Regions from separate parts of the Homo sapiens genome. Here region 2 is linked to region 1. Evidence: fine-mapped expression QTL. A gene starts in region 1. The other region holds a variant in brackets. All regions are shown on one strand. Distances are from middle to middle. Region 1 holds the start of CEACAM21 (CEA cell adhesion molecule 21). Region 2 holds the start of B3GNT8 (UDP-GlcNAc:betaGal beta-1,3-N-acetylglucosaminyltransferase 8).

Region 1 (8,323 bases):
CCATGAATGCAGTCACATATGTCATTAGGAAGGAATGTCTTATTAAGGGGAAAATTGTAGCAAAGGAATTTCTGTTTATGTTCAAATTTGTAGACTTTTGTATTATTCTTTAAATAAGAATCTACTCTCCCCCAAAATGAATGCAATCAGTGTCTGGACAGTGTTGGGGTCTTACTCCTGGCCCCTGGGAGCTGGGAGCTGACAGTGCCCTGCTGCCCCAGCCCTGGGCCTTCTCTGAACCTCAAGAACACTGGATGGCCCCCATTTAGGGAGTAGAGAGGAGAGGTCTTTTAAACATCCTCACCAGTCACCTCTCCACCTTTCAGACCCTGGGCAGAATCTGTTGCCCACTCTTGGATTTGATCTTTAAGTTACTGACTTTAAAGCATTTTGACACTTTTTTTTTTTTTTGGTAGTCAGAAGCTTTCCACCTCCTTGGGAAAAGTGATTCTCTACTCTATGTACAGGAATAACCAGTAGAAATAGAGAAAAAATGCATTAATATTCAGAAAGAAGATGATCTCTATGTGAACAAATGAAAGCTTAAAATCATCAGAGTCAACATAAAATCAACATTGCCAGTGCTAAAACTACAAAAGTGACATTAACGGTGAACTAGAAGAATAAAACAAGCATTACAGTTGCTGGTAAACCTAAATCACTTATTTTTTTAAAAGACCATTCTGGTATATTGCAATGATGACAGGAGTGCCCTTCAGTCAATATGATGCCTGTAATTTTTGTGACCTGGCAAGATATACTGTCCCTTCTCCTTTTAAATCTCAAATGCAAAATGAGAGGCAACTCCTGGGTCACCCCCTCCCAGAGCAAACTGCCTGCAAGCAGCCCCTGGAAGAGCAGAGGCCCTAGTTTCCCTGATCCTCAAGGCAGGAGCGATGGGAAGCTCCCTGTAAGCCGGGGGAGAGCTTTGTTCCCAGAATGTTCCTCCTCTTCCCAGAGGCACCAACCCCGATGCCCTGACACTTACCTTCTGCTCTCTCGCCCAATGTTCACTCAAATATTGAGTGCTTGGTGAGTCTGCAGAGCTCAGGAACTTCTGGGAGCCAAATCACCACCAGCTCCTCCAGAAAAGATACCTGTGCACACCCAAAACCACCCCACTGAGCCCTGCCTGGGGTCTGTACCACATCCAGCATGTGCACTGTGAGCATAGAATCCGGCCCTGAATTCATGACCACCCACCAACATGCCCCCAACTGAAACCAGCAAATTCCCACACATGGCAAGCACTGAGGCTTGGAGGTGCTTTCTCACGAGGTGGTTCTGCTTCCACCATGGGGTGGTTGTCACTGACACTGGAAGTTGCTCAGCACCTGATAGTGGTGCAGGACTCAGGGACCCTCAACATCAATCTGGTGAAGGCAGATGGGGCCCCTCCAGATCTTCTCCCACCTGCAGGTGCCCAGCTCAGTAAGACCCCAACCCTGGGAGGAGGATCCAGACCCCTGTGCCAGGTAGACCAAGCTTGAGGCCTCAGGCAATGAGAGAGAAGGAGATGGAGGTCTGACCAGGAGCTGCTCTTCCTTGAGAGCCCGGGTCCCTTCCTTGTGCAAAGGCTTGGCTTATGAACAGAATCCTCAATCTGTAGTGACAGTGCCTAAGAGGATGACATGGACTCCGGCCTGATGTGCAGCCGTCCCTGTCTAACCCCTCCCTGCTGCAGGACAGCACCAGCCCAGGAGAGGAATCCTCAGTTGGGGAGCCAGTAAGAACATGGAATACTCGGGGCCTCTTACCTTCCTCCAGTCCACAGCAGCAGCCACCGTTTGTGCCTAGGACACCCACCTGCTGGCCCTTCTGACCCTTACAGTCAGGCCTTCCAGATGCCACTCCTGACTCAAGGCCCAGCTACTTTCACCCTGCTGAGCCCTGCTCCTCCCAACCAGGGTCACTGCCTTGCTAAGCACCTCCTCCAGCTCCAGCTGACTGGTCACCCAACACCCAAACCCCAGAGGACAAACAAGAAAATAAACAGATATGAAGTCTGAAGGAGATGCAGGCTATGAAGACAAATAAAAGAGTAAGCATGAATATAACTCCACCAACAAAATTGTTTCCCAAAACAAAATCTTCTGTGCCCATGATCATGGAACTAATTGTCCCTCACTATGTAGGCAAGCACTTCCAGGGTCTCTCAATTATTTCATGGGTGTCAATATACACTGTAACATAGCAACTCAGAAAAGAAAGTGGGAATAATTTATCTACTTAGATTAAGGTCCTAAAAAGGTCTCCAGACTGCCAAAAAAGGAGAGCTGAACCACTCCTGCTTTGAGAACCATTGAACTACATCTTTTTTAAAAGTCACCCCAGAATGGCCAAAACAATCTGGAAAAAAAAATTGGAGGACTCACTTCCTAATTTGAAAACTTACTAAAACACTACAATCATTAAAACAGTGTGCTTCTGGCACAAGAATGCACATAGAGATCAATGGAATAGAATCAAGAGTCCAGAAATAAACCCTCACCATTACAGCCCATTGGTTTTTGACATGGGTGCCAAGATTCCTCAATGGGGAAAGAATGGTAGCCTCTTCATATTGTGCTGGAACAACTGGATAACCACATGCGAGATAGTGTAGTTAGACCCCTACCTCACAGCCCATACAAAAGTTAACTCAAAATGTTTCAAAAACCTAAATGGAATAGCAAAACTTATCAAACCATTAGAAGAACATATAGGAGTAAAACTTAATGATCTTGGATTGGGCAATGGTTTCTTCAATATGACATCAAGAGCATAAGTAACAAAATTAAAAATAGATAAGTGAACTTCATCAAAGTTAAAAATGTTTGTGCTTCAAAGAACACCATGAAGAAAGTGAGAAGACACAGAATATGAGAAAAATTTTGCAAATCATGTACCCCATAAGGGACTTGTATCTAAAATATATAAAGAACTATTACAACTGAATAATAAAAAGATAACCCATTTTTTTTAAACAGCAAATGATTTGAATAAATAGTTCTCTAAAAAATATTAAAATTGTCAGCAAATACATGAAAAAATGCTCAACTTCATCAGCCACCAGGGAAATGAAAATCAAAACTGCAATGAGCTATCACTTCACACCTACTAGAATGGCTATAAGTTTTAAAAAATATTAAATAGTAAGTGTTTACAAGAATGTAGAGAAAATGGAACCCTCGTATATTGCTGATGGGAATATAAAATAGCACAGCAAACTGGAAAACAGTTTGGCTGTTTCTCAAAAACTTAAACATAGAACTACCACATGACCCCATATTTATACTCCTATATGTACCCCCAAAGAAATGAACACAGAAACCCAAACAGATACTTCCAAGTGTAAGTTCATTGCAGCGGTTTTCACAATAGCAAAAATGTGGAAACCACCCACATGTCCATTAAGAGATGAATGAATTAAAATTGAGGTATAAACATATATTGGGATATTACTCAGCCATAAATAGGAAAGAAGCTGTAATATATGCTACGACGTGGATGAATCTTAAAAGTGTTACCCTAAGAGAAATAATCCAGAAAAAAATAATACACGTATATAATTCCTTATTATATGAGACATGTAAACTAGGCAAATTCACAGAGATTGATAGTATCAGAGGCTACCAGTGGGTGGGGCAGGGGGAAGTGGGGAGTTATTGATTAAAAGTATGAAGTTTCCATTTGGTATAATGAAGATTTTCTGGTAAAAAATTATGGTGATGGTTGTACAACATTGTGAATAGAATTAGTATCATTTAATTCTACACTTAAAATTGCTAATTCAGTACATTTATCTTATGTATTATACCATATCTAAAGAGATCTTTGGGAAACAAACACTCGCCCTGATCAGATAGTCCTCATACTCATGTACACACCCTTCCTGACCTTCTGTAAAAAGGGATACAAAGATTTAGGGACATGAGACAGTTCAGGCAACTGCAGATCCACAAAATATATGTATTTGCAAAGAGAATGAGAGTTAAGCTGGGGGCACAGACCCCAGACACGGAGAGGGTCCCCCTGAAACCTTCACCAAGGACAGCAGAACCCAGAGCCTCCCACCTCCTTCCATCAAAGTCCTCTCTTCCCAGGACACACAGGACACCTCCCTCCACACCTAGGAGCTGGGGATCCTCCCGAGACCTCCAGGCCTGGGTCTCTGTCCCTGGGTCAGAGGCCAGGCTGGTGACACTGAAGATAGCGGGTGGGTCCTTCCCAGCCATCACCCAGTGAGCCCCTTTCTAGCCCCCAGAGCCACCTCTGTCACTTTCCTGCTGGGCATCATTCTGCCTTCCTGGAGCACTGGAGAGCATGAGGAGACCCAGGGCCCAGCTGGTTTTGTGTGTCACAAAGGGAAATAATCTACCGGCTGTGACAGAACCAAGGCCAGAACACAGCAGAGGTCAGTACTGGGGAGAGTGGGTCGTCCTGTTATGAGGACCCCATCAGCGTTGCTTCTCAAAGTTTTGCCTAGGGAACCAAATATAGGCAAAAAGGAAGGAGAAAGGAGGGACAAGGGAGGCAGGACTGAGAGGGGAGGGGACAGAGAGACATTGTAGGCAGAGCCCCGCCCTTGCCCATAAACGGGAAGTGCTCCTGCCTGAGAGGAAGCTCAGCATAGAGGAAGGAAGGACAGCAGAGACAACAGTCACAGTAACCCTGTCTAGAGCGTTCCTGGAGCCCAAGCTCCTCTCCACAGAGGAGGACAGAGCAGGCAGCAGAGACCATGGGGCCCCCCTCAGCTTGTCCCCACAGAGAATGCATCCCCTGGCAGGGGCTCTTGCTCACAGGTGAGGGGAGGACTCCCTGGGAGTGGGTGGGAGGAGGGAGCACAGAGACTGGCTGGGGTCTCCTGGGGAGGATGGGGCTCTGAGAGGAGACAGAGGGCTTTTGTTAGAGACTCAGGGGAGAGAGCGTCTAAGGAGAACCAAAAAATCTAAGTGAACTGGAATTGCCAAGGGGCAAAACAATCTCAGTTGGTCCATGTTTTCAAGTTCATTGTCAGTGGCCACTACACTTTGAAAATGATAGTAAAACTATATCACAGTGACAATTTAAATAAAAACACCACCAGGGCATGAAACTCTGTCTTCATCTGCCAACCTCAGACATTAGCAAATAAACCCCAGGATATGGAAGGCCCTGGGAACGCTCATGAACTCATCCACAGGAGTCTGCAGCCTGTCCCAGGCACTGGGGTGCAACTAACATCACTCAAGTCCATGCCCTCACAGAGCTCACAATCTCATGGGGGGGAAGACAGACACCCAAAGAGATCTAGAATGTGAGGTCAGGTGCTGACAAGAGCCCTGGAGGGAACAGAGCTGGGAAAGGTCAGAAAGGGAAGACCCAGGGTCTCTAGAGGAGGCTTCACGAAAGAAGTCTCCCAGGGATTCCCTTGTGTGAGTAGGAACTGAAGGCAGTGGGGAGGGAACCATGCAGACCCCTGGGAAAGAGGGTTCACACAAGGAAATGCCAAGGTCAGAGGTACTGAAGGAATGAGGGTCATGCTGCTGACTTTGACCCAGTAGGACACACACACACACACACACCCTCTAAGGCTGAGGGGTGAAGAGACCTGCACCCAGGACCCCGTCTTTCCATGCCAATGCATAGGTCAAATATTGACTGATATTCTCTCCCTTTCCTAGCCTCACTTTTAACTTTCTGGAACGCACCCACCACTGCCTGGCTCTTTATTGCATCAGCGCCCTTTGAAGTTGCTGAAGGGGAGAATGTTCATCTCTCTGTGGTTTATCTGCCCGAGAATCTTTACAGCTATGGCTGGTACAAAGGGAAAACGGTGGAGCCCAACCAGCTAATCGCAGCATATGTAATAGACACTCACGTTAGGACTCCAGGGCCTGCATACAGCGGTCGAGAGACAATATCACCCAGTGGAGATCTGCATTTCCAGAACGTCACCCTAGAGGACACGGGATACTACAACCTACAAGTCACATACAGAAATTCTCAGATTGAACAGGCATCTCACCATCTCCGTGTATACGGTGAGTGATTCCTCCGTGCCTCTGGGTGTTGGGGGTCAGTTCTGCTTCACATACGCAGGATTGTCAGGCCTGGGCTGTGCCTGCATCCCCCTCTGCATTACGTCCCATGTTGGGGTTTGGGCATTTAGTGCAGGACACACCCAGGGGAGACAAACTATAACAGATCAGAATTCCTTTCCCTTATCCGGACTCCGTGGAAATTCCCTACAGCAAGAAGGATAGTCTGATGCGGGAGATGCAGCGGGGGAAAATCAGTCTCAGTCCAACCCCCCTTGGCCTCCTCCTCATAGACATGACCTGAGAAAGATCTTATAGGACTCAGTCAGGGCCTGGCCTGAGGATCCTCTGAGAGAAGCTCAGCCCTTGAAGCCCCTGCCCCAGGCCCCTGTCCCAAGATCCTGACTCCAGATGACCCTGGGGAGCCTGTGCCAGGGCTGGGTTGTGGCTTCCTGGGCAGGGCTGATTGTGAGCAAGGATTTACCAGCTGTCCCAGGGCCGTGGTTCCTAGAGCTGGTCACCAGGCAGGGCTCAGCCCCCAGAGCCCCATCTGGGCAAGGGCAGAGCCTCATCTTTCACCTGAGAGTCAGAGTGGAGAGGACAGACAAACAAACTTCCCAGGCCATTAAACTGGATGGGAAACTTAAAAGATGTCCCGGGAAGTGCACTGTCCTCAGGAGGAGGGAAAGCAGAGAAAAGACACTCTGGACCGCTCCTTCTCCACCAGGAATCAGGCCCAGAGAACTCTTTTTTTTTTTTTTTGGAGTAAAATAATAATAGATGATGTTTATTTGGAGCTATTCTGTGCCAAGCTTTAGGTCAGGTAATTGTAAATATTTTAATGTTAATTTACAGAGAGGATGGCAAGCCAGGGACCATTGACATGTACCCCATTTTATTAAAGAGAAATTGCATCAGCATCACACAGGCTGTCAGTGCTCAACGTCACACCACCGTGTGTCTGCAGCCCAGAATCTGGTCGTGGCCACCACCGTGGGGCATCTGTGGACCCCAGGACCAGATGTTGGTTCAGCTCCTTTCTTCTTGGGCATCCTCAGCTCAGAGAGGGAGATTCTGGTCTGAGGAATGACGGGCAAATGGAGAATTAGTCAGTTTTTACTTAGAACGAAATCACCTGTCTCAACTATCAGACTCAATGCCAGGATTGTCCAAGCCTCTCCCATCAGATCCACATTCCTTCCCTCACTGGACGTGAAATCATGAATTTCTTGATTTGTTGATGTCACTCCCATGGGAGGATGAAGGAAAGGACTCAGCTTTCTCTTCCCACTACACCCTGTACCTGCACAAGGCCCAACTGAGACACACACTCAGTAGTTCTCTGATGAAGGAGGGAGGGAATTAATGAAAAAAGAAAGGAATAATCATAACCTCTTTACAGACTGGGTCCTGGATGTAGGATCCTAGGAGGAGCTGGCCACACCTCTTCCTTGTCCCTTAGGGGCTGAGACCCATGTTCCATTTCTCTGACTGCCTGCTCCTAAAGCCACCCCAGGTATTGCATCTCATGTGACTCTGGGGCCGCTCATCTGTGGGAGGGTTTTCAGGGCTCCCTGGTCCTGGTCTGAGGCAGCTGGGTCCTCCTGGTCCCTGGGGTCTCTGAGGTCACTGTAGTCCCTACTGCTCGCTGCTATGGGTGTCTCTGGTTCTCTCTGCTCCTCCCTGTCCTTCATCTTTCTCCTTTATTCACAGGAGAATGTTCTAAATTTGACTCTGAGATCTCTGAGGATGCAGCATGGCCCCAAGACACTTTCTGTTGGTCACTCTATCCACAGAGTCAGTGGCTCAGCCCTCCATCCAAGCCAGCAGCACCACAGTCACAGAGAAGGGCTCCGTGGTCCTGACCTGCCACACAAATAACACTGGAACCTCTTTCCAGTGGATTTTCAACAACCAGCGTCTGCAGGTCACGAAGAGGATGAAGCTGTCCTGGTTTAACCATGTGCTCACCATAGACCCCATCAGGCAGGAGGACGCTGGGGAGTATCAGTGTGAGGTCTCCAACCCAGTCAGCTCCAACAGGAGCGACCCCCTCAAGCTGACTGTAAAATGTGAGTGACCCTCGGCCCCTCTCACTCCTTTCCTTGTATATTTTCCTAGGAGGGAGGGGGGGTGTAAAATGATACACGGAATGAGAAGGATGAGATTCCTTCAGAGCCTGGGGAGCAATGTGGGTAAGAACTCAGGGATTAGACTCATCCAGTTATCATCCTGGTTACAATAGGTACCAGGTATTTGACCTTGGGCAAGACACTCAACCTCCTGGGCCTCAGTTTCCTCATCTGTAGAATTGTTACAAA
Region 2 (8,323 bases), 150 kb before region 1:
CATGGTCAAGCCCTGTCTCTACTAAAAATACAAAAATTAGGGCTGGGCGCAGTGGCTCACGCCTGTAATCCCAGCACTTTGGGAGGCCAAGGCGGACAGATCACCTGAGGTCGGGAGTTTGAGACCAGCCTGGCCAACATGGTGAAACCTCGTCTCTAATAAAAATACAAAAATTAGCCGGGCATGGTGCCGGGTGCCTGTAATCCCAGCTACTTGGGAGGCCGAGGCAGGAGAATTGCTTGAACCTGGGAGGTAGAGGTTGCAGTGAGCTGAGATCGTACCATTGCACTCCAGCCTGGGCAACGAGAGCAAGACTCCATCTCAAAAAAAAAAATTAGCCAGGCGTGGTGGTGCGTGCCTGTAGTCCCAGCTACTCAGGAAGGTGAGGCAGAAGAATCGCTTGAACCCGGGAGGTGGAACTTGCAGTGATTGGAGATGGCGCCACTGCACTCCAGCCTGGGCAACAGAGCAAGACTATCTCTTAAAAAAAAAAAAAAGCTGGTTTGAGGATTAGGTGGCAAACCGTGGTGGAGTGTACATGCCCTGCCCAGAGTCAGTGTGCCACCCTCCCTGGCCCGGTCATTAGGACCCAGGGCCCGTGCAGCCCAGTGGTGAGGGCAGCACCCGGCATAGGGCAGCACCGTGTGTCCTGTCCCTGCCCTTCTCTGTGCCTCAGTTTCCTCATTGCTTAGCTGTCTACCTCTTAGGGCTGCTGAAAGCCTTAAATGATTCCACACACTTGGATAGCACCTGATCCCTGCTGGGATTTGAGGGTTTTCATTACACTTCTGCTAGGATAATCATTTCCATTGTCGAGGTGGGAACACAAAGGCTTGGAGTGGTTAATTCCTTGCCAAGGCCCCGCAGGAGGAAGCAGGGTCCTGCATGGGAGGCCGGCTAGCCTGCCCACTGCCCCATGTCCCCACAGGTGATGGAGGCCTTTGAGCAGGCCGAGCGGAAGCCCAAACCCAACCCCAACCTACTCTTCTCAGACGTGTATCAGGAGATGCCCGCCCAGCTCCGCAAGCAGCAGGAGTCTCTGGCCCGCCACCTGCAGACCTACGGGGAGCACTACCCACTGGATCACTTCGATAAGTGAGACCTGCTCAGCCCACCCCCACCCATCCTCAGCTACCCCGAGAGGTAGCCCCACTCTAAGGGGAGCAGGGGGACCTGACAGCACACCACTGTCTTCCCCAGTCAGCTCCCTCTAAAATACTCAGCGGCCAGGGCGGCTGCCACTCTTCACCCCTGCTCCTCCCGGCTGTTACATTGTCAGGGGACAGCATCTGCAGCAGTTGCTGAGGCTCCGTCAGCCCCCTCTTCACCTGTTGTTACAGTGCCTTCTCCCAGGGGCTGGGTGAGGGCACATTCAGGACTAGAAGCCCCTCTGGGCATGGGGTGGACATGGCAGGTCAGCCTGTGGAACTTGCGCAGGTGCGAGTGGCCAGCAGAGGTCACGAATAAACTGCATCTCTGCGCCTGGCTCTCTACCACCTCTGGTCTTTGTTTCCTGGAGTTTGGGGGTGATTTGAGGCCACCCCCAGCTTCTCCACCTTAGATAAATAAGGTCAAGGCTCTTGAGATACCTACTTCCCCCGGAAGCTTGCGCAAGCTGGAAGGTTAACTTCAGCAGACAGGATGGGGGTGGGGGGGTCCTCCAGAGATGGTCTCCTGCTCTCTCACAGAATGGGAGAAGCCTGCTGTCCAGCAGAGTGATGGGGAGCCCAGTGGAGCTAGCCCTGCCCAGCAGGGGTGCAGGGGAGCGTCCAGGATGAAGGTCAGGGTGTGGCCAAGCCCTGCTCCCCACCACTCCAGGGCCCCACAGATGCAAAAACAACCCCAGGCCTCAGAGTGGGGAGTGCATGTTTTTCAAAAACAAAAAGTAGGCAAAAACAGTCCACCACCCCATCTTTCCTGCCCAGGCCCCTGGCTGGGGGAGGCCAAGGAGTGGCTTAAGTTGTCCAGCTTCTGGGCCCTCCTCCCTCCCATCAAGACCTGGAAGGAGGGGCTGAGCCAGGGGCCGGCCCCAGAGGCCCAGGCCAGGTCAGCACCTCCGCCCTCCCCAATGAGAGTCAGCACTGGAGCCTTGGGTCTTGCAGTTGTTTCCAGAGCCGAATGCTGGCCTGGGGGCCCAGGGGCCGTACCAGCAGCAGGTTGCGGAAAGCACAGTGGTCCGCAGTGCGGTCTGCTGGCCAGGCTGTGAGGAAGCCTGGGTGGGCCTGGGGCACCAGGCCCAGGGCTCGGATGCAAAGGCCAGTGTAGACGTCCTCAAAGGGGAAGGGTGCCACACGGGCTGCCGCCCGCAGCAGCCAGGGTGCCAGGCGCCCGGCAATGACGTAGCCACCCCCGCTTGCATAGGCTGGGTAGCCACCTTCGAAGAAGGACTCGGGCACATAGAAGGGTCCTCCTGGCTTCCGGAGAGGCATGGCCTGGGTAAAGACCTCACCCAGGTAGAGGCTTCGGGCCGAGGCAGGTGGCAGGGCCCGCAGGTGAGCCAGCAGGGCAGGGGTGTGTACAAAGGCATCGTCCTGAGCTCGCAAGACAAAACTCACGGTGGGGCAGTGGCGGCCCAGCCAGGCCAGCAGCAGCAGGTCTTTGAGCGTCTGGTTGAATGGGACGTCGAGGAAGTCCCAGAGCAGCAGGTCACTGTAGCGACGGCTCTCCCAGGCCACTAGTGAGTCTAGGTCAGGCCCCGCCTCACCCACCGGAGACCCTAGCAGGAAGAGCAGCCGGATCCCTGGAGCTGGACTGCCCCACGTCTCTCTCACGGCCTGTCGTTCTGCAAAGCGCCCTGGTTCTGACTTGACGGCCAACAGCAGGTAGGGGACATCAGTATCTGAGCAGCTGGAGACTTGGCTGCCACCACCTCCAGGCAGCCACTGTGGGAAGCTCCGGCAGGCTGCTGACAGCAAGAAGCGGCGGAGGTCCTTGGGGTAGGAGGCGAAGTCAGGGATCTCGGTGGCGGCGGCGGCCCCCCAAGCCTGGCAGCCCCCCGTTTCAGTGCTGTCCCCACTGGGCAGGGACCCCAGCCGCCACTGCTGCTGGTTCCAGTAAGCAAAGGGCAGCGGGATAGTCTGGCCCAGGCGGGTGGAGAGGTTGGCAGGTAGGGTGGGCTCAGGGTTGGCTGGCGTGGGGCTTGGCGGGGTGCCCCGAGGGCTGGGGTAGGCCTTGCTGAGCCGGGACTCGGATGTCCACTCGATGTACACTTTGAGGCCCAGGAGTGTGAGCAGTGCTGACAGGCAGAGAAGGCACTTGGGGCAGCGCATGACCCGGCCCAGGGAAGGGGCGGCCGCGGGAGCTACAAGGGAGCCACAGGGGAGCCACGGAGGCCATTGGGGTGTGGGGATGGGCCTCCAGAGAGGGCCCAGCCAGGCCCCAGGCAGACAGCTTCACAATCTCCCATAGTCCCCGCCAACCCCCATAACAGATTCTCTCGGTCCCAGATCCTAAACAGCTCCCCTGACCCAGGGACCTCGTTGGTCCTTATTCCTAGACCTAGGAGTCCCCCATTCCAATCCCGTACCAGCACCCTGTTCTTCCCACTCCGTCCAAATGCTTCCACCTTCCTAAAAGCCCAAGGGTCTACCTCTTCCCTGTCTCCATCCAGGACAAGGGACCTTGCCGTCTATCTCCTCCCTCTCCCTCCATTTATTGCCCTCACCAGGAAATCAGGAGCGGGATTCCTAGCTCCCTGGGGTTAGAAACCCAGCCTGCCTCCCGCAACACCCCAACCCCAGGGACTGGGGAACCAGGGATCCCATGCTTTTTTACCTCTGGGTCTGGCTCCCGCCAGCTCCGGGTGCCGGCCTCAGGTCAGGCCTCCCTCAGCTCCCTCTGATCTGCCTGCCCCAGCCCCTGTGTTGTCGACCGGCGGGGCCCAGCCCTGCCCAGCCAGTCCAGAGGGGCGGGGAGGGGAGTGGAGCGGGAGCAGGGAGGGCCCCAGGGGCCGGGGCGGGGCTGAGGCAGGAGAGAGGGAGGGAGGGAGGGAGGGAGGAGGGCAGGAGGCCGACCTGAGAGATGGGGCTCTGGCGTGTTAGGGCTGGTTTCTGGTGAGACAGCTGGGAAGGGTGCAGGGGGCAGCCACAGAAACAAGACGGGGGCTTTGTGAGGCCTGGGAGGGGAGAACCAGGGCCAGGGGGTGCCAGGGAGGGTGGGGCTGAAGGCTGGGCCTGGGCTGGGGAGTGTTAGAGTGACCAGGGCGAGGCAGGGTCCCACTGAGGCAGAGATGGGGAGGCTGAGAGGCTGGCGC[C/T]CGGCTGCACCCATGGCCAGGAGGCGGCAGTGAATGTGCTGAGTGGGAAGGGATCGGCGGGCCTGCCAGAGGGATGTTTGTTGTTGCTGCCCAGTCAGGGTGAGGTGGGGGGAACGGGGCTGGTGAGGAGAAGGAGAGACAGAGACATTGTGGAGAGGGAAGAGACGGCCAGGGAGCAGAGAGAGGAGAACTGGGGTGAGACAGGCGATGGAGAGAGCTGAGGGGGAGAGAGAGAGAAGACGGGCAAGTGGGAAGGTGGCCAGGAGGGAGAGGGGGAGGGAAATGGAGATGGCGAGAAAGATAAGGGGTTGCGGAAGCCCTGTGGGGTGCTCATGGGGAAAGAGAGGTTGAGAGAGGCAGGTGGAGGGCAGAGGGGAGGGACTCAGGCTTCCGAGCCAGACCCAGGCAGAGGCGGAGAGGGAGCCAAGGGGAAGAACAGGAGAGGAAAAGACTGGAGCTTCAAGGGCAATAGAGGGTGACGGGGTGGGGCCCACGGGGAACCCCGGGAGCTAAGCTGATCCCCTGTACCTCCTCCATCCCTCTCGGCACCCGGGCTGCCTGCCCAGCAGCGTGGGAATCTGTTCCTACCTTACCCCCAACCTCCGGCCTGGAGCCAGCCTCACCCCGGGCCCCTCCCCTCCCCCAGCGGCACTGTGACTCCAGGAACACTCACATCCAGCCCCTTGGGGCAGGAGGGGGTGTCTGCCTGTGTTTGCATCCCTGCCCTCCAGGGGCCCCTGCTGTTGGGACTGCATCAGCTCTCTGAAGACCTCCCAAGACATGGGGTAAGACTAAGGGGCTCCCACTAAGCCTGGGCTGACCCCTTCACTCCACCCTGGTTTGGGGCAGGCCTGTCCCCATCATGGCAGGAACACAGTCTGTCAGCAGCAGCAGTTGATGATCTGTCCAGCCCTGATTTCCTCCCCCAAAGTTTGAATAATGGAGCCTGTGGGAACAGCTGGAGGAAGAGAGTGGGGAGGAAGTGGTGAATATTAATGGAATAATAGTTGGAGTGGGAAATGACAGCTAGGGGCTGGGGGCAGGGGCCCGAGCACCTCCTGAGGGAGTCTGCAAGCCCACTCCACTCTGGGGCTGGGGGAGAGGGACTCCAGGCCCCCTGAGCTCATCTAGCTTCTGGGGGCAGGGGGTGCTGCTCCTCCTGGAAGCATTAGGAAGCTTCACAAGGTGCCTTTCTTTTTGCCTTTGCCATGTGCCTCAGTCCGGGTCCAATCAGGAGAGAGAAACCACACAGGAATGGGAATAGGGAAAGTTCAATATACAGAATGATTAACTCTCATGGGATTGGCCACTAAGGGGTGCCTTCTTGGGGAACATGGTTGGAGGGTGGACATGCTGGTGGAACACGATCATTCCAATCCAACACTTCTGTCTCCCCAAGCCTTGGGACTCCCCTCACCCATCTTATGCTAGGGCAGTTCTGGTCTCTCTGCCTCATTAACTTTAGGCCACTGTTGGATCCAAGTTCCGGTTAGGCACCCAAGCAAGCTATTAGAACTACGTCCAGCTGCACAAGGTAACCCATGAAATCCAGAAGCTCTAGAAAGCGCACTCATGCCAGTAAATTTGGCCTGAGCTAGTGTTACATCCACCCTCATTGGTGTAACATCCTTAAAATCCCCTTCTGCACACATTCCCCAAGTTTCTGACTCTGTATATTTGCGAAGCCTTGTCATTCTTATAGTGTAAAAGCTGCTCCCGCCTAGGTCCTAGCTGGCACCTGTTCACCTGGAGCAAGCTGATTTCACCCTAGGTATTTATGGGTCTAGAGGCAGCAAGGGGCGCTGTGGTGAGTCTTAAGAAGAATGGGGTGTATCTGTTATTTCTGTATAAGAGCTGGCCATAAGAAAAAAAAAACTGTGGTGGGACAGTGGCTCACCCCTGTAATCCCAATACTCTGGGAGGCCAAGAGGGAAGGATCACTTTCCAGGAGTTCAAGACCAGCCTGGGCAACATAGTGAGATCTTACCGCTAATCAAAAAAAAAAAAAAAAAAAAAAGGACGACCACTTTCAAGGTGTCTGCCCCTGGTGAGGTCATCACAAGGTTTTTTTTTTGAGACGGAGTCTCACTCTGTCACCCAGGTTGGAGTGCAGTGGCATGATCTCCGCTCACTGCAAGCCTCACCTCCCAGGTTCACGCCATTCTCCTGCCTCAGCCTCTCAAGTAGCTGGGACTACAGACGCCCGCCACCATGCCCGGCTAATGTTTTTGTATTTTTAGTAGAGACAGGGTTTCACTATTTCTACTAAAGTAGAGTACTTAGGCAGGATGGTCTTCATCTCCTGACCTTGTGATCCACCCGCCTCGGCCTCCCAAAGTGCTGGGATTACAGGCATGAGGCACTGCACCCGGCCTCTGTTTTTTTTTTTGAGATGGAGTCTTGCACTGTCGCCAAGGCTGGTGTGCAGTGGTGCAATCTCGGCTCACTGCAACCTCTCCGCCTCCTGGGTTCAAGAGATCCTCCTACTCGGGAGGGTTCAGCCTTCCGAGTAACTAGGATTACAGGTGCTCGCCACCACGCCTGGCTAATTTTTTGCATTTTTAGTAGAGATGGGGTTTTACTATGTTGGCCAGGCTGGTTTTGAACTCCTGACCTCATGATCCGCCTGCCTTGGCCTCCCAAAGTGCTGGGATTACAGGCGTGAGCCACCGTGCCTGGCCACATCACAAGGTTTCTAAGCACAGGAAGGCTGGTAGGTTCCTCAGATGCTGATAAGTCACTCGCTTGGAGTGACTTGGGGGTTCAAGATCGCCTGTTTACTCTGGGTCCAATTAGATGACCCCATTCCAAAGAAGTAAAAACTTTTGGGCCGGGCATGGTGGCTCACACCTGTAATCCCAGCACTTTGGGAGGCTGAGGTGGGTGGATCACCTGAGGCCAGGAGTTTGAGACCAGCATGGCCAACATGGCAAAACCCTGTCTCTACTAAAAACACAAAAATTCGCCTGGCGTGGTGGTACACGCCTGTAATCCCAGCTACTCGGTAAGCTAAGGCAGGAAAATCGCTTGAACCCGGGAGGTGGAGGTTGCAGTGAGCCGAGAGATCACACTACTGCACTCCAGCCTGGGTGACATAGCAAGACTGTCTCAAAAACAAACAAACAAAAAATCTGGGGGCTGTCATGAAAGCTGTCTAGTTCTCAGACTGTGACTTGAGCTGAGTTAGCGGACCCAAGCTTGTCACTGTCTGTGGGCACTCAAGGGCACTCTGGAGAATCCATCCAATACCCTGGTCTTCAGAATTGGCACAACTAGCACAGCTGTTGAGCACAGCAGCCACAGGGGGTCCCAAGGCACGTGCTTCAGTTGGTCCCTCATCTCCGTCAACCACAGGCACTTGTGGGATTATGATGCCATTGCATGCCATGGGCCTCTGGCATCCTGTTTCCCATCAGCAAGAGCTCAGCGCGGCGCCCAAGCCCAAAGGCACAACCAAACCAATCCTGGAATCCTATCTTAAGAGTCATCTCCTGGGACACTCCAGGTATCAACTCTATATCCATCAGGATGCAGTCAGGAGAGAAAAACCACAGAGTAACTTGAACAGGGAAAGTTTAATATAGAGAATTACTGGCTTTAACAGTGAACTGGAATAATGAGGGCTTCACTGGTAAAATGCTTCTGAATTGACTGGAAATCCATTTGGGGTGCTGGGGAACGTTATTCCCAGAGAGGTGCCTCAGTGGAGGCGCTGTGTCTCCTACGCAACTTCTGAGGGCTGGAGGGTGCCAAGGGCAGCTGCTGACCGCCTGGTGCTTCAGGAGCTGGGTGCTGGGGAAGCCACATGCACTGCGGCGTCCAGAGGCAGAAGCACAACCAACAAGAACCACGAAGGAGGCGCCTTTCCTCCTATAATGCCTGTTTGGTGCCCTCTACTGACAAAGCTTATCCCCTTTCAAAAAACAGCCAACTGAAAAAGCTGAATTTGGAACATAAAGTCAATAAATCCATAACCAGCAATACTATGGGGCCTGGGGTGCGCTGGCCTTTAGTGAGTGGAGTGGGGCGAAGGATGCTGCATGTCCTGCAGTGGGCACAGCGGCCCTGCAC

What was found.
Region 2: its variant is fine-mapped to the expression of CEACAM21 in whole blood (INTERVAL, PIP above 0.99).

What each region holds. Positions count from the first base shown.
Region 1 is chr19:41,571,555-41,579,877 of GRCh38, forward strand. It overlaps CEACAM21 (CEA cell adhesion molecule 21), which reads left to right and starts at 4,612. Exons shown (of 7, transcript NM_001098506.4): 1 at 4,612-4,784; 2 at 5,646-6,005; 3 at 7,799-8,074. The coding sequence starts at 4,721.
Region 2 is chr19:41,423,510-41,431,832 of GRCh38, forward strand. BCKDHA (branched chain keto acid dehydrogenase E1 subunit alpha) reads left to right here. Exons shown (of 9, transcript NM_000709.4): 9 at 929-1,493. The coding sequence ends at 1,099. It overlaps B3GNT8 (UDP-GlcNAc:betaGal beta-1,3-N-acetylglucosaminyltransferase 8), which reads right to left and starts at 3,865. Exons shown (of 2, transcript NM_001385648.2): 1 at 3,775-3,865; 2 at 1,850-3,301. The coding sequence starts at 3,269. The coding sequence ends at 2,076. DMAC2 (distal membrane arm assembly component 2) reads right to left here. Exons shown (of 6, transcript NM_018035.3): 6 at 7,809-8,323. RefSeq lists silencers at 3,906-4,015, 4,036-4,185 and an enhancer at 7,572-8,323. The variant C/T (reference allele first, on the strand shown) is at 4,253.